Linked DNA regions of Homo sapiens: region 2 is linked to region 1. The links come from fine-mapping of genetic effects on gene expression. A gene starts in region 1. The other region holds a variant in brackets. All regions are shown on one strand. Distances are from middle to middle. Region 1 holds the start of SH3GLB1 (SH3 domain containing GRB2 like, endophilin B1). Region 2 has its middle 95 kb from the start of SH3GLB1.

The links. PIP is the estimated chance that this variant, and not a neighbour inherited with it, causes the effect.
Region 2: its variant is fine-mapped to the expression of SH3GLB1 in whole blood (INTERVAL, PIP 0.98).

Annotation. Positions count from the first base shown.
Region 1 is chr1:86,697,663-86,708,368 of GRCh38, reverse strand. It overlaps SH3GLB1 (SH3 domain containing GRB2 like, endophilin B1), which reads right to left and starts at 3,793. Exons shown (of 9, transcript NM_016009.5): 1 at 3,398-3,793. The coding sequence starts at 3,469. CLCA4-AS1 (CLCA4 antisense RNA 1) reads left to right here and starts at 3,876. Exons shown (of 5, transcript NR_135837.1): 1 at 3,876-4,762; 2 at 10,607-10,670. RefSeq lists a silencer at 3,140-3,629 and enhancers at 3,454-3,955, 4,520-4,589.
Region 2 is chr1:86,794,132-86,804,837 of GRCh38, reverse strand. No RefSeq gene overlaps it. Among named protein-coding and RNA genes, the nearest start is that of SH3GLB1, 95 kb to the right of the region's middle. The variant T/A (reference allele first, on the strand shown) is at 5,976.

The DNA of each region.
Region 1 (10,706 bases):
AAATTATTATTTATAAACGTGAATGTTTCTCTCTCTACTGTTCTTACTGCTTATAAAGAGATATTGGCATAGCTCTTAAGCTATTCTTAGCATGAAACTTGGTACTTTGGCATTATACTGATGTCAATGCAATTTAATGTAGGAACTCAGTGATGAAATAAATACTGAGATGAGAAAGCAGTGTTTTGTTGAAAACTACCACACAGCATTCCAAATTTCACATGTTCTATTTTAGAAGCATCCTTTTTTTCTTACAAATTTTATCTTTAAAAAAGTATTATGGAAAATGTCAAACATACAAAAGTATAACAGTATAATGAAACCTCATGAACCCATAACCAACCTTCCACAACTATCAACATTCCGTTGCTGTTGTTTCAGCGACTTCTGTTTTTTTCTTTTGAAATATTCAAACGCTAATCTCAACTGGTGTGGTGGCTCACACCTGTAATCCCAGCACTTTGGGAGGCCGAAGCAGGTGGATCCTGAGGTCAGGAGTTCAAGACCAGCCTGACCAACATGGTGAAACCCCATCTCTACTAAAAATGCAAAATTAGCTGGGCGTGGTGGAGCCTGCCTGTAATTCCAGTTACTTGAAAGACGGAGGCAGGAGATTGGCTTGAATCGGGGAGGCGAAGGTTGCAATGAGCTGAGATCGCGCCATTGCACTCCAGCCTGGGCAACAAGAGCCAAACTCCATCTCAAAAAAAAAAAAAAAAAAAAATACCCTGTAAAAACCAAATCTCAGATATGATATAAGTTTATCCATAAACATTTCAGTATGTATCTCTAACAATTACAGACACATTAAAGAAGTCTGTTTCTCCTAAAATTTTTCCCTTAATAAACGGCTCAAGCCAAAACCTTGGAGTCATCCTTAACTCATCTTTCTCTCATACCTCACAGCCAATCCAACAGCCAATACTGGATAATTTGGAACCTTCACTGCTACCACTGTAATCTAAGTTACAATCGCCTTTTACGTGTATTATGGCCACAGCTCCTTCATTGGTCTCCTTAATGCCCCTGAAACTTCAGTCTTTGTACTTCTTCCTGCTGCCTGAAATACTTTTATTCCAAAAAAAACTAGGTCTGTCACTTCCTTGAGGTCTCTTGAATTTCATCCTATTAGAAAGACTTGCCCTGACCATCCTATCTATACACGATACTAATGTTAGAAAATACTAATAAAGATATTAACAACCACCATCTCTGCGTTATTCTATTCTTCTGGCCATGATTTTTATCACCACCTGATGTATTTACAAGCTTATCTTCCGCTACAATGTAAGCTTCAGGAGGGCAGACACTTTGCTGATTTTATTCACTGCTGTATCACCAGTGTCCACAGTAGCCACAAGCAGACATCAGACATGCAGTAGACACTTAAATATTTAAAACTGAAAAGAAAATTATTTGATGGCTAACAGATTAGCATAAAATTTAAAACTTTTTCCTAAAGAATTTGAAACAAGGAATTAAAATTCTTTGGGAAGTACACATTTTGAGAGCTTTGCTAGATTTAATTTTTTAAATTGAGTCTATCCACAATTTAAATCAGACTAAATTCTAGTAAATGTGTCCTCTTTAAGGGGTGTGAGTTATACGTCTGAAACATATTTAACTGTATTTAAAAGAGTAGCATTATACAGTGTCAAATCCTCATAAGCATCTAGAATTATAGGTAATGAGCACTAGGACAAACAAAAATACCAAGGGCTCTAGTCCTCTATTGCAGTCAATGTTAAAAGTGTACAAGTGTCTCACACATCAAAATTCATTTCACACCCTCAATCACTCATTCTTCTTGCACCTTGTCTTTGAACTATTAGAAGCTAGTGAATTTAAATCAAAACATTATTTTAACTATAAAGGCTCAACGTCTACAATATATCATATTTTAGGGAAGGAAGGGAAGAAAAGGGTTAAGGCAGCTAGCTTATTACTCACCATGCAGATTTTAGAACTTAGAAATCAAAAGCTAGAAGGAATTTACCATCTCTAAAGTGTTACTTGCTTGTTGATATGGAAATGCTCAGATTGAACCAGATGATTTTTAAGGTCTCTCTAGGCCACAGCATTCTATTATTCTAGCTATCTTAAATCTGGAATGCTTATCCCGGAAGAAAAAGCAGCTGGGAGTACTAGGTCAGACAGCACCTGGTTATTTACTAGTTGTGCAAGTTTCTTAACCTCAGTAAGGCTGCTTCCTCACATATATAAAAGGGGTTAATAACATCTATCTGGCAAAGTTATGGAAAAGACTGGAGATAATATGTCAAATGCATTACAAAGTGCTTGACAGGTTTTTCATAATATAGGCAGCTATTACCTTGCTCTAGCTCTACTACTCTTTTGCCAGGGATAGTGCAATGTAGGATCAACTGTGCCAACAAAATTGGGGCAAAGGCAAGGAAAGTAGTAAAGCCACAGAACAGATTTACATTTCAGCACCAATTTGGTATGCATATTAGAAAATTATTTTTGTTTTCTTTTTACAAAAGAGAATGTTGTTGCTACCGTGACCGTAAACACCAGATTGTTTATAATTCATGTTGTGAAATTTACATCTGTTCACAGATTTACTGAGTTGGCATAACATGGGTGATGACTGTGGGAAACGGCCCAAGTTCCTTAGTACTGACACTTCCTTGATTGTAGAATATCGAGAGGTAGTCAACTTTTCCCCTTAAAGTATATTTAAAACATACTACTGTGACTACAGCCATAACAATATCCCCGCATCTCTCCTTGATCTACAGCTGGTGCTTCCCATTTTGAAAAAGAGTGAAAACCCCCCAACCCTAGGTTTCTTGTGGTCTTGGCAAAGTCTCAACGCCAACTGGCGATCTCCATTTCCCCCGCGGGCTGCCAAGCCCAGGACAGTCCTTTCAGGGAGAAAGAGGGCCGGAGGGAACTGTGTTGGCAGCTCTCTGGGTTGAAGGACAGGAAAAGGAAACTCCCTTCTTGGACTCCGAGGGGAGGGTGAGAGACGAAAGGAAAGGGTGGGGGGTAGTGCAAGAATGGCCTGTGTCTCGGTTACCGCAAAGGACTCGCAAGCCTCCGCCAGCCCCGGGGTGGAGGCCACAGGAGCACTGACGTCGTGGTATCAGAAAGGCGGACAGTGCAGCCTTAGTGTTCCCCAGGGGTGGGAGGAAGCTCCCGGCCCCGTCCCCACCCCGCCTCGCTTCCCAGGGAGCGGCGGTTGGGCAGGAGCGGGGCAGAAATCCGCCGCCGGGCCCGGGGAGGGGACCAGGCCGCGCCCATCTCCCAGGCCTCTGGCTGCAGCAGGCCCGCTGGGTGGTCGGCGAGGCCCGGGGGCGCCGCGTCGAGCTGCGGTCCCCTCCCTCAACCTTCCCGGGCGCCGCCACCCCTTTTCCCCCCAGCACCAGGGTACCTGCACGGCGCGACTGAGGAAGGTGCCTGCGTCGGCCGCCAGCTTCTTCACGTTGAAGTCCATGATATTCATCCTAGGCGGCAGCCGGGCGGAGCCGGCCGACCTAGCGGCGGCGAGGCGGAGGTGCCGCGGCCGGGCTGGGGCGCAGGGCTAGAGCGGCGAGGGCAGACGTGGTAGGTGGAGGGAGGCGGCGCCAGCCCCGCAGCCGCAGCTGTCGTTTCCGTGAACGGGGAGGATGAAGGCGGGGCGAGGGAGGAGAACAAGCGCGCGGCGGCAGCGCCAAGGATGGGTCAGTCGGCTCGGAGAACGGCCGCTAACGTCGACGATGGGCCCCGCGGGCGAGCCGGAGATGGACGGGCGACCCCGCCGTGTGGACCCGGGTCCCAAGGGAAAAACAAGCGCGGGCCGCGGGGCGGAGCCTTTCTCGAGGTTATCGCGGGAACAGCGACCCCTTGAGGATTGCGGCGGCGCAGCCCCGGGGCGCGCCGGGAGCTCCGCCCGGCTCCTGTGGAGGAAGCGGCGAGGGCGAGCCGCGGGGTCTCGGCGCCTCTGTATGCTTGCACTTAACGAGAACCCAGAGCGAACACGACCCACATTTCTCTTTTTGTTTTAAGAGGAAATATAGGAGTTACAGCATAGAATTACAATATCTGGACATTAGAAATAACAGGTCCCGGTCACGGTATGGCACCGCGCGACACACTTGGTCCCTGAGGCCTGGATGCCGCTCAGCAAACGTTCGCGGAATAGGGTTGGGTTTACTGTCCCCCACCGAGCCGGTTGCTCATTCATTCAGCATAATTGAATACCTCCTGTGTGCCAGGCACTGAATCAAGTGTCGGAGACAATGTCCTGCCCTCAAGCTCCTGGCCGGTTACTTGACAACCTTCCGGGACCTCAACGCTATGTGCCTACTGTGTGAAAGCAAAGTGCCAGGTGGAGGACACAAAGATGGCGAGCGACACAGGATAGTCCTTAACAATTAAGCGTGACTAATTTTAATAACAAATGAGAATATGATGTGACATCCGTTCCAAATCCTGTCGTTCCAAGTAACTTCTTAAGCATCTTTCACGATACAGCCTCTGCTTGAAAGGAATTAAAACAGGTACAAGCATGGAAGGAGACGTTGCTATCATATTTCAAGAATAAGAAAATGCTGTTTTGTGTGGTTGTGCAGCAGGCAATGAAATGAGCTTACATTCAAGCTTCCGTGTTTTACTGAAACAACAGTCACAGATGCAGTAGATGTTAAAGGTTGAAAGACGAGTGCAGTAAAAGCATTATGAGGACAAGAAGAAAACGTAAATATTTGTGTTGTTTCATTCTTTGTTGTGGTGGCAGAAACAGCCCCCTCTTTCTAAGGTAACTCCAATATAATGATCTCTCCCAGCTTTGAAATACTCCATGTCTGTTTCATTTTCCAGAAATATGGAAAAATGAATATATAATAAAAAACCCTATTTCTCATTTATTGTCTATTTTAGATCTTTATGTGGAAAAGCACTTACTCTCTTCCCAGAGCACTGTTTTTAAAGTAGGTATATTTGCCATAACCTATGCTCGTCTCTACAAAAGGATCACACCACCGTGTCCACCATTAAAGGGGAAATTCTTTAATGGTGGACACAGTGGTGTCCCTGAATCCTCATCCTCAAGTGTTTCAATCTTCCCAGTCTTGGGAAAACAACAATGTTACTTCTTTCTTTTGCACCCTCTGTAGCTGTAATCCTGTTTCCCCATTCTCCATAAAAGACTTACCTTATTTTCATATATCCTTATTCTTAGCCTTTGACACTTTTTTTTTTGAGACAGAGTTTTGCTGTGTCACCCAGGCTGGAGTGCAATGGTGTGATCTCAGCTCACTGCAACCTCTGCCTCCTGGGTTCAAGGATTCTCCTGCCTCAGCCTTCCAAGTAGCTGGGATTACAAGCATGCATCACCACGCCCGGCTAATTTTTTATATCTTTAGTAGAGACAGAGTTTCACCATGTGGGCCAGGCTGGTCTCGAACTCCTGGCCTCAAGTGATCCGCCTGCCACAGCCTCCCAAAGTGCTGGGATGACAGGTGTGAGCCACCGCACCCAGCTGATTCGCTTTCTTTACAGAGAAAATATAAATCATCACTCTGTTTGGCAGAAGCCTCTTCAACCAAATTTCCTTATTTCCACCTCCTGTTCTCTCCACACTCTTTCCTGCATCATTGCCAAATGTTTCAAAGGAATAGGTGTCTCAGGTGTTCTGAGTAGAGCCACTGCTCCCTTAATCTTGGCTGCACATCAGCATCACCTGGAGAGTTTAAGCAACCACTGATGCCTGGATCCAGTCCCAGAGTGTGGACTGGGCATTGGGATGTTTTAGGAGTTCCTCTAGGTGTTCTTAATGTGTGACCAAGGTTGAGAACTAATTTGTCACCCTCTAGAACTTGCTCCATCAGTCTCTACCCTTTGCCTACAGACTGATTCTACTTCTCTTACCAGATATCAGTCCCTTAAGGGCAGTGTCCGTTTCCTATTTATTTTTATATATTTTATGGTTTACACAGGCAACATAGTGAATTCCCAAATGATTTAGTAAGTGAAAAAAGTAATCAAATCAAGATGTTTACAGTGCTAAGCTCTTTTGTGACACCATCACCCCCAGCCTAAATTTCCAACTATTTATCCATAGATTCAATATTTCCAGTGGCAAGTCTGTTATAGTTTGCTTTTCCTGAAAATTCTTCTTTTCTTGGGTTTCCTACATTGATAAATTGAATCATACACACCAAATCACCTAAGCCAGAAATCTGAGTCCCCTTTGATTATTTCCTCTTATTTCCCACCACCAATTGGTCTATCCTGGCAATTTCTTCTCTGAAACTGTTTCCTATTTTTCATTTTCATCCTCTTTTTAAAAACAAATTTTTTAACTTGAAACAATTTACAAACTAAGAAAACTGTTGCAAGAATAGTACAAAAACTTCTGTGTACCCTTTGCCTAGAAACCCCACTCAAACTTTGCCAATTATTCCAATGTCTTTACAGCAAAAACGTCCCAGCCAAGAAAGATCATGTGCTGCATCCAGTTAGCTTGTTGCTCAATTCTCCTTCAGTCTGGATCAATTATTCAGGCTTTTCTTGACACTATTCCTTCCCCAGAGTTAGCCACTATTTTTAAATTGGTATGATTAATATCTGTTATGTTTTTGTACTTTCACTGAATTTATATGTATCTATGAATGGTACTACTATGTTATATTTTTAAACTGCATAAATGATATCATATAGATAAATCCTTTTGCATTTAGGGGTCTAATACTTCTATTTGTGTATTTGATGACCTTTTTGTTTGTGGATTGATTCCTTTTGCTTTGTACATTGATTCCTTTTAGCTTTTTTTTTTATGGCTCATTTTTAGTGATACAGAAAAAAATGTTTCTTCTGTCAGAGACCCCTAAGGTTATCACTGGCTAGTGAGCAATTTTTACATGAATTTCTTTCTTGGCTTAGAAGTTCTAAGATCATTCAGATATTATAAATTTGAACCCAGATTTGTGGGAGTACAAACTATGATTCAAATTCTCAAGGGAGAGAGATCTTCCTTGTTTTTTTCTCTTTCAGAGCTTGTGCCTTGACAGAAAAGCTTCTTACTATGCCAGAAGAAAAGCTTCTATCTAGTCTACCCTTTCATTGAGGGTACAGAATTTCATGGGTTTTTAACTTATGTGTGTGTGTGAGGTCATGAAGTTGGGGGACAGGGTGTGCTCACAGTTAACTGATTTCTGTTTGCACCAAGGGCCCAAGGTCTTATCACAAGTTACCGTGTATTTTTAAAAATTATAAAGGCCAGGCGCGGTGGCTCATGCCTATAATCCCAGCACTTTGGGAGGCTGAGGTGGGTGGATAACTTGAGGTCAGGAGTTCAAGACCAGCCTGGCCAACATGGTGAAACCCTGTCTCTACTAAAAATACAAAAATTAGCCGGGTGTGGTGGTGGGTGCTTGTAATCCCAGGTACTCGGGAGGCTGAGGCAGGAGAATCACTTAAACCGAGGAGGTTGCAGTGAGCTGAGATCACGCCATTGCATTCCAGCTTGGGCAACAAGAGCGAAACTCCATCTTAAAAAAAAAATTAATGAAAATTGACAAATGATAATTGTATATACTGTATTGTATACAACCTGATTTGTAATATGTATACATCTTGGAATGGCTAAATTGAGTGACTTAACATATGTATTACGTCACATACTTATTTTTATGGTGAGAACACTTAAAGTCTGTTCTTAGTGATTTTGAAGAATACAACATGTTGTTAACTATAGTCACTATGTTGTACAATAGATCTCTTGAACTTATTCCTCCTATGTAACTGAAATTGTATATCCTTTGACCAGCGTCATCCAGCTCCCTCACTCTCTCCCAGCCCTTGCTAACCACCATTCCACTCTTTGCTTCTATTGAGTTCAACTTTTTTAGATTCCATATTTAAGTGAGATCATGCAATATTCATCTTTCTGGGCCTGGCTTATTTCACTTAACATAATGTCTTTAAGGTTCATCTATGTTGTCACAAATGACAGGATTTCCTTCTTTTTAGAGGCTGAATAGTTTTCCATTGTATACATATATCACATTTTTAAAATCCATTTATCACCTCATGGATTTAAACATTCAAGCACCATCCTCATTCAATCCTTTCTCCTCTCCAGACAGGGTCATATTCTGTATTCAAGACCCTGGTGTCCAGTTTCTTTTTTTATTTTTGCCACCTGAATATTTCCCTGTCTTTTTTTTTGTAAGCTCAAGTATGCATTATTATTAATTAATTAATTTATTTTGCTGCATTTTACCCAGCATTTCTAAGTATTTGTAGTAGAAGAGTTTTCATGTTATCTAGTCTGTATTGATTAAGGACTGCTTATGTTCAGCTCAAGTAACAGAAACCTAGCTGTAGTGACTTACCCAAATACTGATTTATTTTCTCACCCTCTAAGAAGTTCAGAGGTAGGCAGTCTTCTGTGTTTTTGTTTTTCTATTCTTATCATGTAGCTTTCATCCTAATGTCTCAAGATGGCTCCTGTAATTCTAGGCATTAAATATGTTTTTAAGGCAGAAAAAGGATGAAAAGTAAAGGCAAAAGTACATGCCAACTGAGTCTACTTCTTACTCCTTAAATCAAGAAAACAGCTTTTTCATAAACCCCACGTAGTAAACTTTGGTTTACATCTCATTAGCTAGAACTGGGTCGTTTAGTTCTCCGTAAATGCATTAGAGACTGATAAATGAAATGTGCCCTGTTGAAAAATAAGTATTTCAATTTTTTATATCTTTAAAAAAATCTATATCAAAAATACATATATATGTATCTATATATCTATATATATCTATATATAGATACATATAAATTCAGTTGAAAGTATACAATCATAATAGAAATTAGTATTTTATTTTTAAATCTTTCTTTATTTCTTAAACAGCACTTACTGTCATCCTGAACAAAAATGGGGTTTCTGTTAGCAAGGCAGAAAGAGAATAGTTATAGGGTAAGCAACTATCAATGTCTGCCATGCTGCTGTAAGGCAAGAATTGAAAGTCTCCCATGCTCACTGAAACTTCCTTTCAGTTTTTAGACTGATAAACAGGGCCACTTACATAATTCGCAGGGACCAATGCAAAACGAAAATATGGAGCCCTTTGTTCAAGAGCAAAAGGAAAGTGCTGTTTAAAGGTATTAAAATAAAACTTTTTCCTTTATTTTGTGATCTCTTTTGACTTGTCATTTTTTTATTTGCTGTTTAATGTCATTCTAAGCAAAGAAAAGATTATAATTTAAATTATTAGAATGATTTTTACCATACATCTTCATGTTGTACAATGACAGTGTTATGTTATGTTATGTTATGTTATGTTATGTTATGTTATGTTATGTTATGTTATGTTATGTTATTTTTTGAGATGGAGTCTCACTGTGTTGCCCAGGCTGGAGTGCAGTGGCACAGTCTTGGCTCACTGCAACCTCTGCCTCCCGAGTTCAAGTGATTCTCCTGCCTCAGCCTCCCAAGTAGCTGGGATTACAGGTGCCTGCTACCATGCCCAGCTAATTTTTGTATTTTTAGTGGAGACGGGTTTTTGCCATGTTGGCCAGGGTGGTCTCAAACTCTGTAATCTGCCTGCCTCGGCCTCCCAAAGTGCTGTGATTACAGGCATGAGCCACCGCGCCCGGCCCTACAATGCCAGTTTTAAAACAAATATAAGAGCATTTCCCAGCCTCACTAATTATCAGGGAAATGCAAATCAAAACCGCAATGCAATACCACCTTACTCCTGCAAGAATGGCCTTTAATTAAAAAAAAAAAAAAGATGTTGGCATGGATGTGGTGAAAAGAGAACACTTTCACACTGCTGGTGGGAATGCAAACTAGTACAACCACTGTGGAAAACAGTGTGGAGATTCCTTAAAGAACTAAAAGTAGGTCTACCATTTGATCCAGCAATCCCCCTATTGGGTATCCACCCAGAGGAAAAGAAGTCATTATACGAAAAAGATACTTGCACATGCATGTTTATAGCAGAACAATTCACAATTTCAAAAATATGTAACCAGCTCAAATGCCAATCAATCAACAAGTGGATAAAGAGAATGTTGTATATATTTTCTGGAATACTACTCAGCCATAAAAAGGAATGAAATAATGGCATTCATAGCAACCTGGATGGAATTAGAGACCATTATTCTGAGTGAAGTAACTCAGGAATGGAAAACCAAGCATCGTATGTTCTCACTCATAAGTGGGAGCTAATCTATGAGGACATAAAGGCTTAAAAATGTTTCAATGGACTTTGGGGACTTGGAGGAAAGGGTTGGTGTGGGGGTGGGGCATAAAAGACTACACATTGGGTACAGTGTACATTGCTCGGGTAACGGGTGCACCAAAATCTCAGAAATCACCATTATGGAACTTATTCGTGTAACCAAACCCCACCTGTTACCCAAAAACCTATTGAAACAAAAAAATTATAGATAAAAAACAAATATAACAGCATTTAAGATGTATGTAGAATCATTGAAATTGTACAATTTGTATTTCACAGTACACGCATGCATATGTATTTTGTTCTTACTAAAACAGTGGAAATGCGGCATGAAACTAAATCAATTTTTAAAAATTTTATTTCTTGATATGTGCATATTCCACCAATACTCTACTTTTGGCCTGCTGATGAAGAGTAAGGAAGGACTGAAAGGAGGAGAAACTATGGGTTGCCTTTTCCTTCTGTCATCTGTTCAGCGTAAGTGGTTGGCAGCTTTAAAAAACCATTTACTTT
Region 2 (10,706 bases), 96 kb before region 1:
CCCTAAGACATTAAAACAGTTGTGGGGGTTCCTTGGAATCACTGGCTTTTGCTGACTATGGATCCCTGGATACAGCGAGATAGCCAGGCCCCTCTATACTCTAATCAAGGAGACCCAGAGAGCAAATACTCATCTAGTAGAATGGGAACCAGTGGCAGAAACAGCCTTCAAAACCTTAAAGCAGGCCCTAGTACAAGCTCCAGCTTTAAGTCTTCCCACAGGAAAAAACTCTTTATATGTCACAGAGAGAGGAGGAATAGCTCTTGGGGTCCTTACTCAGACTCGTGGGACAACCCCACAACCAGTGGCATACCTAAGTAAGGAAACTGATGTAGTAGTAAAAGGCTAACCTCACTGTTTAAGGGTAGTTGCAGCGGTGGCTGTCTTAGTGTCAGAGGCTATCAAAATAATACAAGGAAAGGATCACACTGTCTGGACTACTCATGATGTAAATGGCATACTAGGTGCCAAAGGAAGTTTATGCCTATCAGACAACTGCCTACTTAGATACCAGGCACTACTCCTTGAGGGACCAGTGCTTCAAATACATACATGCATGGCCCTCAACCCTGCCACTTTTCTCCCAGAGGATGGGGAACCAGTCGAGCATGACTGCCAACAAATTATAGTGCAGATTTATGCCACCTGAGATGATCTCTTAGAAGTCCCCTTAGCTAATCCTGACCTTAACCTATATACTGATGGAAGTTCATTTGTGGAGAATGGGATACGAAGGGCAGGTTATGCCATAGTTAGTGATGTAAACATACTTGAAAGTAAGCCTCTTCCCCCAGGGACCAGCATCCAGTTAGCAGAACTAGTGGCACTTACCTGAGCCTTAGAACTGGGAAATGGAAGAAGAATAAATGTGTATACAGATAGCAAGTATGCTTATCTAATCCTAGATGCCCATGCTGCAATATGGAAAGAAAGGGAGTTCCTAACCTCTGGAGGACCCCCATTAAATACCACAAGGAAATCACAGAGTTATTGCACACAGTGCAAAAACCCAAGGATTTGGCAGTCTTACACTGCCAAAGCCATCAAAAAGGGGAAGGAGAAGGGAGAACAGCAGCATAAGCAGCTAGCAGAGTCAGGGAAAGACCAGCAGAAAGGAAAGAGAGAAAGAGACAGAGAAAAAAGAGAGGAAGAAACAGAGAGACAAAGAGAAGGAGTCAAAGAGAGAGACAGAGAACGCGAGAGAAAGACATAGAAAGTCAAAGAAAGAGAGGAAAAGACAGACAAAGAGGGAGTGAGAAAGTGAAAGATGAATAAGTCAAAGAGAAAGAAAGGGAGATGGAAGTAGTAAAGAAAAAACAGTATACCGTATTCCTTTAAAAGCCAGGGTAAATTTAAAACCTATAATTGATAATTGAAGGTCTTCTCTGTGACCCTATAACACTCCAATACCACCTTGTTAGTGTAAACAAGGGGGTAGCCCGAAAGCACTGAGGCCACTGACAACCCGTAGCCTTCCTATCAAAAATCCTTAACCCAGCAGGTTTCCTAACAGGGGATCTAAATCTGAAGGTCCGACCAGACAGAGGAGGAACTCCCTTTAGGACAGGAGGATAGATGGTTCCTCCTGGGCGATTAAGGAAAAAAGACACAATGGGTATTCAGTAAATGTTAAGGAAACTCTTGTAGAAGCAGAGTTAGGAAAATTGCCTAATAATTGGTCTGCTCAAATGTGTGAGTTGTTTGCACTAAACCAAATCTTAAAGTACTTACAGAATCAGGAAGGAGACATCTATACCAATTCTAAGTTAATATGGACTGAATGAGGTTTTATTAATAGCAAAGAAAAATTAAAATTCCAAACTTACAAGGTTTTCTACTAAAGTAGAGTTTGCTAAAAGTTAACAGTGTAACATGCATTATCTTACTACCACACACTCTCAAAGGCTTTCTCAGACAGTTTGCAAGAAATAATGAAATCTATCCTTACTCTACAATCCCAAATAGATTCTTTGGCAGCAGTGACTCTCCAAAACCATTGAGGCCTAGACCTCCTCACTGCTGAGAAAGGAGGACTCTGAACCTTCTTAGGGGAAGAGTGTTCTTTTTACATTAACCAGTCAGGGATAGTATGAGATGCTGCCCAGCAATTACAGGAAAAGGCTTCTGAAATCAGAAAACACCTTTCACAATTCTTATACCAACCTCTGGAGTTGGGCAACATGGCTTCTCCCCTTTCTAGGTCCCGTGGTAGCCATCTTGCTATTACTTGCCTTCAGGCCCTGTGTTTTTAACCTCCTTGTCAAATTTGTTTCCCCTAGAATTAAGGCCATCAAGCTACAGATGGTCTTACAAATGGAACCCCAAATGAGTTCAACTAACAACTTCTACTGAGGACCCCTGGACCAACCCACTGGCCCTTCCACTGGCTTAAAGAGTTCCCCTCTGGAGGACACTACAACTGCAGGGCCCCTTCTTCACCCCTATCCAGCAGGAAGTAGCTAGAGCGGTCATCAGCCAAATTCCCAACAGCAGTTGGGGTGTCCTGTTTAGGGGGGGATTAAGAGGTGAAGCTGGCTGGGCTTCTGGGTCAAGTGGGGACTTGGAGAACTTTTCTGTCTAGCTAAAGGATTGTAAACACACCAATCAGCACTCTGTGTCTAGCTAGTTGGGTGGGGACTTGGAGAACTTTTGTGTCTAGCTAAAGGTTTGTAAATGCACCAATCAGCACTCTGTGTCTAGCTAAAGGTTTGTAAATGCACCAATCAGCACTCTGTCAAAACAGACCAATCAGCTCTCTGTAAAATGGACCAATCAGCAGGGTGTAGGGATGTAGGTGGGGCCAAATAAAGGAGCAGGCCACCCTAGCCAGCAGCGGCAACCCACTCGGGTCCCCTTCCACGCTGTGTAAGTTTTGTTCTTTCACTCTTTGCAATAAATCTTGCTGCTGCTCACTCTTTGGGTCCACACTAACTTTATGAGCTGTAACACTCACTGTGAAGGTCTGCAGCTTCACTCCTGAAGCCAGCAAGACCATGAACCCACCAGGAGGAACAAACAACTCCAGACGGGCCACCTTTAAGGGCTGTAACACTCACCGTGAAGATCTGCAGATTCAGTCCTGAAGTCAGTGAGACCACAAACCCACCAGAATGAAAAAACTCCGGACACACCATCTTTAAGAACTGTAACACTCACTGTGAGGATCCACGGCTTCATTCTTGAAGTCAGCGAGACCAAGAACCCACCAATTCTAGACACAACATGACTGCATAAGATACAGTACCAAATGGGTGTCACGAAACCATGAAAACCATAGGAAAGATAGAAAAGAATGCTATAAGCTACTCTGGGAAAGGCACTGTGTCCTGCATCCCTTCTCTCTTATTTCTGTTAAGCAGGGCGAGGCCTCCTTAAGAGCATGGTCTCTGGAGTCAGATTGCATAGACTTAATTCCCAGCTTGTCTTAAATCCCACTTAAATTGCATAGACTTAAATTCCATTTGCTAGTTTTGTGGTCTTGGGCTAGTAACTTTTCTGCACCTTAATTTTCTGATCTGTAAAGTAGGTATAAAAAGACAGTAATTAGCGCTGGGCACTGCGGCTCATGCCTGTAATCCTAGCACTTTGGGAGGCCGAGGCAGGTGGATCACGAGGTCAGGAGTTCAAGACAAGCCTGGCCAGGATGGTGAAACCTTGTCTCTACTAAAAATACAAAAATTAGCTGGGCGTGGTGGCACATGCCTGTAATCCCAGCTACTCAGGAGGCTGAGGCAGAGAATTGCTTGAACCCGGGAGGCGGAGGTTTCAGTGAGCCAAGATGGCGCCACTGCACTCCAGCCTGGGTGATAGAGCGAGAGTCCATCAGCAAAACAAAACAAAACAGTAATTACTTTTTCTTCTTGTGAGAATTGAATGAGTGAATACAATAGTGCCTGGTACATAATCAGTATGCAATAAGTATTCACTATGACCTTGATTCAATAAACAATTTTTGAATACCTATGATGTATCAAACACTGTGTTTGAGATACAACAATAACGAATAAAACATAATCTTTGTCCTTAAGGAGGTTACAACTTTCAATGAAAGATACAAACTAGTGAACAGGCCATTGAAGCATGTGGTAAATGAGCACAAGAAGGATGTATTAGTTAAGACTTTGGCTTAGAGAAACAAAAAACAACTGAGCTCTCTTAAACAAAAGAGAGGAGTTAAAAAAATAAAAATGTAGCAGTATGTCAAATAGGACTATTATAGAACCAGGAACTGGAGAGCCACTGGGAGCCCCAGAAGTAGTCTTTCTCTGCTGGTGGGCTGCATTTTTCTCTGCAGCCTGGCCTCATGCTTCTTTGTCCCCACAGAGGGATATGACCATCCCACAGCTCATTCCTGGGTTTACATGTTGAAGCCTGACCAGGAGGCTGGATGGCCTGCCCCTATGCCAAATTCTTGGGGAGGGGAATCTAATTTGTCCCCCTTCAATGAAGGGTTTAACCCTTGTCTAATTGGCAAGGTCATAGTAAAAACATGGCTCTGGGGCCAGTGACTGTAAATTGGGGGAGTGGGCAAGTGAGGCTCAGTTCTTAAAGAAGGAGGTGTGGCTCATGGGCTAATTAGATACTTCCAAAGGTGTCAACTCCAGGAGGGACTCTAACCCAGCCTTGAGTCAGAGGACGCTTCCTACAGGAATTCATGCCTAGGCTAAGACTTTGAAGACTAATGAGAATTAACAGATGAAGGGATGAGAAGAGCATATTCCTGTAATTGTGAGAAGCATGAGTAGAGAGAAGGGGGCATCTCTGGACATCTCCAGGGAGGCCAGGGACAAGAGATGAGCCTGGAAAAATGAGCAGAAGGTAGATCACAAAGGGTCTTTTAAGCTTTACCATGTTAGGACTTTGCTGTGAGTTCTGAGGGAATGTATTAAAGATTTTAAAAGATAACTCGCTTTTCTTTACAACATTGACACCATCAAATGTTTTGTTGGACAAATTATTCTGGGAACCATATGAGAATATGTTGGGGTTGGGGAAAATGGAGGCATCGAGGTAATTTAGGTGAGAGGGGGTGTTGGTGGTCTGAACTAAGGTAGTAATAATAATAAGAAGAAAAAAGTTATGTTGATCTTAGGACACCCACATTACACAGTGCCTGATTTATATTAGGATTTTTGTTGAGTGATAGCAACTTAGAAATCAGATAAACTGGAGTGGCTCCCTCTAGTTCAGATATTTCTTGTTGCTTTGGTGATCAATGGCACTAGAACAGAGGAAGGGCTGGTAAATTCTGGCTGCAGGTCAGCACCGCTGAAAGATGTATTAAAGGCTCTTTCTCCCACTGCCATTTGTAACTCTTTGCATCCCTCGATGTGCCAGGAAACTTCAGCTCTGTAACTCAGGAAGGAGAGAAGAGTTATGGTTGAGGGCCAGGTTGAGAGGAGCAGGAGAAAGAAAGAGAGGAGGTGGGGGAGAAAAAAAAGGAGCAGAAGGAGAAGAAGCGGGAGGAGGAGTGCTGAATGGTATAGATGGTATAGATCTCCTTCCCATCTTGGTCTCTTTGGTTAGAAGAAACTAAAGGAATTATTTTCTAGTGATTCTCTGTGAAACTTGGGAGGGGGTGAGGCTGATGACAGCTACTCACAGAAAATGGTGTGGGAGCCAGGCAGAAGAACAGGGTAGCTGCTGTGGGCACCTGCAGCTGACAGTGTTGCATGGGCCTACATGGAGTTCCCATTTCAGAAATACCTGGGGAGAGAGGAAGGGGACTTAAGGGGAAATCCTGAGTTCTGGTTGCAGTGTATGTGTTTGCATATGTGCATGTAGCAATGCAAAGAAGGTGGCGTGGGAGATCATGCCCTTGTGATTTGGGTAGAACTCTGAGGAACCCTCATTTTCTAGTTATAGGCTGGAGGCTTGGTTTTTGACCCAGATAATCTGGTGTTCAGGAAACAAATAGAGAACATCCTGAGCAAGAATTTGAGTTGAAGTAGTTTTAATTTTGTGCCCATGTCACT[T/A]GAGGGGAGGTATTTTTGCTCACTCTCTGAGTGCACAGGACATAGTACCATGCCGGTGTGGCCTCAGTGTGGATCTTCAGAGGCCTCAGAGCAGCACAGCTGAGCTGGACCATTCATAAAGTTCCCCCAGGCTCACAATGGGGCTTTTTAGCAACCCAGGAACATGGAAGTTTCTCTTTTATAAATCTGATGGTGTGGTCCATAGTCTTCCTTCTTTTTTGGTATCTAGAAGTCCTCCTTTTTTTTTTTTTTTTTTGAGATGGAATCTTGCTCTGTTGCCCAGGCTGGAGTGCAGTGGCACAATCTCGAGTCACTGAGTTCAAGCAATTCTCCTGCCTCATAGTCTTCCTTCCTTTTTTTTTTTTGGGTATCTAGAAGTCCTCCTTTTTTTTTTTTAGATGAAATCTCGCTCTGTTGCCCAGGCTGGAGTGCAGTGGCACGATCTCCGCCTCCTGGGTTCAAGCAATTCTCCTGCCTCAGCCTCTCGAGTAGCTGAGATTACAGGCATCCGCCACCATGCCTAGCTAATTTTTGTTTTTTGTTTTTTTGGGACAGAGTCTTGCTCTGTCGCCAGGCCGGAGTGCAGTGGCGCGATCTTGGCTCATTGCAACCTCCGCCTCCCAGGTTCAAGCAATTCTCCTGCCTCAGCATCCCGAGTAGCTGGGATTACAGGCGCCCACCACCACGCCCAGCTAATTTTTGTATTTTTAGTAGAGACGGGTTTTCACCATGTTGGCCAAGATGGTCTCAATCTCTTGACCTCGTGATCTGCCCGCCTCGGCCTCCCAAAGTGCTGGGATTATAGGTGTGAGCCATGGTACCAGGCCAAGAAATCCTCTTGTAAGGTGAAAAAAAATATATATATATTTTATTATATATATTATATATTTATTATACATATCATATATTATATATATTTTATTATATATTATATATATTATATATTATATATTTTTTATTATATATTATATATTTTTTAGTATATATATTATATATTATATTATATATTATATATTTTATTATATATATTATATATCATATATTTTATTATATATATTATATATCATATATATTTTATTATATATATTATATATTATATATTTTATTATATATATTATATATTATATATATTTTATTATATATATTATATATTATATATATTATTATATATTATATATTATATATTTTATTATATATAATATATTATATATTTTATTATATATAATATATTATATATTTTATTATATATAATATATTATATATTTTATTATATATAATATATTATATATTTTATTATATATAATATATTATATATTTTATTATATATAATATATTATATATTTTATTATATATTATATATTATATATTTTATTATATATTATATATTATATATTTATTATATATTATATATTATGTATATTTTATTATACATTATATATTATGTATATTTTATTATATATATTATATATTATATATTTTATATATAATATATTATATATATTATATATTATATATATTATATTTTATATATATTATATATATATTTTATATATATATAATATATATATATTTTTGAGATGAAGTCTCGCTCTTGTCCCCCAGGCTAGAGTGCGATGGTGTGATCTAGGCTCACTGCAACCTCCGCCTCCTGGGTTCAAGCAATTCTCCTGCCTCTGCCCTCTGAGTAGCTGGGATTACAGGAGCCTGCCACCACGCCTGGCTAGTTTTTTGTATTTTTAGTAGAGATGGGGTTTTACCATGTTGGCCAGGCTGGTCTCGAATTCCTGACCTCAGGTGGTCCACCTGCCTCGGCCTCCCAAGGTGCTGGGATTAGAGGTGTGAGTCACCGTGCCAGGCCATTTTTTTTTTTTAAACCATGTTAAATCAATACTTTTGAAAATAATTTAGGATTTAGGCCAATACTTTGTAAAGGCTTCTATTTAATTATAAAAAGTTCTAAATGTACCTTAAAGAAGACACAATGAAATATTTGACCAATAATTTCCATTCATGTTGCAAAAAGATCATTTACCATCTTATATAGTTAATACATTTACTTCTGATGGCAAATGTACTACTCAAGACCCCTCAAGTGTCTGGAAATAGAGATTTCTTTTAGAAAAGCAGCTGCCTTGTGCTCTGAGTACTTTGCAGTTGACTAATTGTGAGGAAAGGTCCTTTGATGAAGAATCAAATCTGGATATTTTATCATAGAAAAAAGAGTTAAAAAAGAGTTCCTAGGCTGGGCGTGGTGACTCATGCCTGTAATCCCAGCACTTTGGGAGGCTGAGGCAGATGGATCACCTGAGGTCGGGAGTTTGAGACCAGCCTGACCAACTTGGAGAAACCCTGTCTATATTAAAAATACAAAAATTAGCCGGGCGTGGTAGTGCATGCCTGTAATCCCAGCTACTCGGGAGGTTGAGGCAGGAGAATCGCTTGCAACTGGGAGGTGAAGGTTGCAGTGAGCCGAGATTATGCCATTGCACTCCAGCCTGGGCAACAAGAGCGAAATTCCATCAAAAAAAAAAAAGAGTTATTTTGTTTCATGAGGAAGTTGATGCATTGAACTTGGGTTCTGTGACCTTGAGTATAACATTATTTCCCACTAAATGCAAATGTTTTATTTTGTTTGTTTTTTTAAAAAGGTCTTGAGTATCCTGTCTATATCCCTTGGATGCTACCATTTCAGAAAATGCCAAGATTTCCCGTGGCTTATGTCTGTCTCTTCATGCACAAGAACTTTCTCCAGCACTGAGAAAAGTTGCCATGTAGGTGGCAGGAAGTGCTGGGGAATTGATACTACCCAGGAGCAGTCTTCAATTAATACTTATAGGAATTGGTGTATAAATATCCCAGCTCCCCCAGTTTTGAGTGGGATAATTCTGACACACATATTTTCTACTCTGTCTTGCAGTTTCCCTGTGGATTGAGCTGCATCGCTGCCCAGGATGGTAGCAGGCTTAATGACCACCCTTTGGTGGCTGCCTGCTATTCCCTCTGTCATTTCCTTACTTCCCTTCTAGTAGTCCCTGCACCTCTAAAATAAGCTATTCTACTCAAATCTATGTCCTAGGGTTTACTTCTTGGGAAACCAAACTAAGACAGACTCATTTGTTTAAAATGGGATCATTCTGCTATTTCATATTCTGTTACATGCTGATAGAGTATCAAGGCATAATTTCCAAACTGCTATAAAGATAATTCTCATACAAATAGATGCATGTGTCAAGGCTTTATTCAATTCATTTATGAGGGAACTGGCAGGATAAGAAAGCTGATTCAATGTGTATAGTCAGTGAAAAAAGGAATGCTGAAATAAGACTGCTATATTAGATGTAAAACTGCTTAATGTCCTACAGGGGAATTACATCATAACCTTTGAGTTATGTTATTACTTAGAGGAACAAATATCATTATAACTTACAGAGATGAACTCTACAGAGATGAACTCTAATTTTATAGACTAGAATGGGTCTGGGTCACTGATTAATTAGTACTAGTAAGTCAAACAATGTTAGACCCTACTCACATTAGATGGGGCTTAGCATGATCAAAGGTCACCCAGTTATCTTTTTTACTTATTTCCAAGTTTGGAATCATTTTTGGAGCAACAGGAGACTTTTTTTTTGGAGACTGAGTCTCACTCTTTTGCCCAGGCTGGAGTGCAGTGGCACGATCCCCGCTCACCGTAATCTCTGCCTTCCCGGTTCAAGTGATTCTCCTGCCTCAGTCTCTGAGGCTGGGATTACAGGCGCGCACCACCACGCCTAGCTAATTTTGTATATTTAGTAGAGATGGGGTTTCACCATGTTAGCCAGGCCGATCTTAAATTCGCGACCTCTGGTGATCCGCCCGCCTCGGCCTCCCAAAATGCTGGGTTTACAGGCGTGAGCCACCGTGCCCGGCCAACAGGATACTTTTATGGTGGCTTATAAGTAATCTGTGGGCTAATGAATGTGACGTTCTTAGTGGCAGATCAGTAAGTTGTGAAATGTGTGTGTGTTTGTATATGTTTTGAAACATTTCACTTGTTTGGAACAACAAAATACGTTTTAAAGACACTTTAAAAATTATAAATGCAGCACATTTTGATATTGAATAAAACATGTAACATAAATTATCAAAACAAAGTTTCTCTATCATGTAGGAGTTTTGTTTTCTGTTTTAGTTTTTATTAAGTGTATCTAGTATTTTGATGAAATTATTTGGAAATTCTGGATCTGGAAACTGGTTACAGATGTCCAGATTTTCCTTACTGGGAAAGAATCTTTAGGAAAACATCTGTTACACTAGAATCTTTTTTTTGGCGGGGTGGGGGTGGGGGAGATGGGACAGAGCCTTGATCTTTTGCCCAGGCTGGAGTTAAGTGGTGTGATCTTGGCTCACTGCAACCTCCGCCCCCCGGTTACGAGTGATTCTCCTGTCTCAGCCTCCCGAGAGCTGGGATTACAGGCGCCCACCACCATATCCAGTTAATTATTGTATTTTTAATAGAGATGGGGTTTCACCATGTTGGCCAGGCTGGTCTCGAACTCCTGATCTCAGGTGATCCACCTGCCTCGGCTTTCCAAAGTGCTAGGATTACAGGCGTGAGCCACCGTGCCCGGCCGATTCATTTGTTTTTTTTTGTTTGTTTGTTTGTTTGTTTTTTTGAGGCAGAGTTTCATTCTTGTTGCCCAGGCTGGAGTGCAGTGGCGTGATCTCCGCCGGCTCACTGCAAACTCCGCT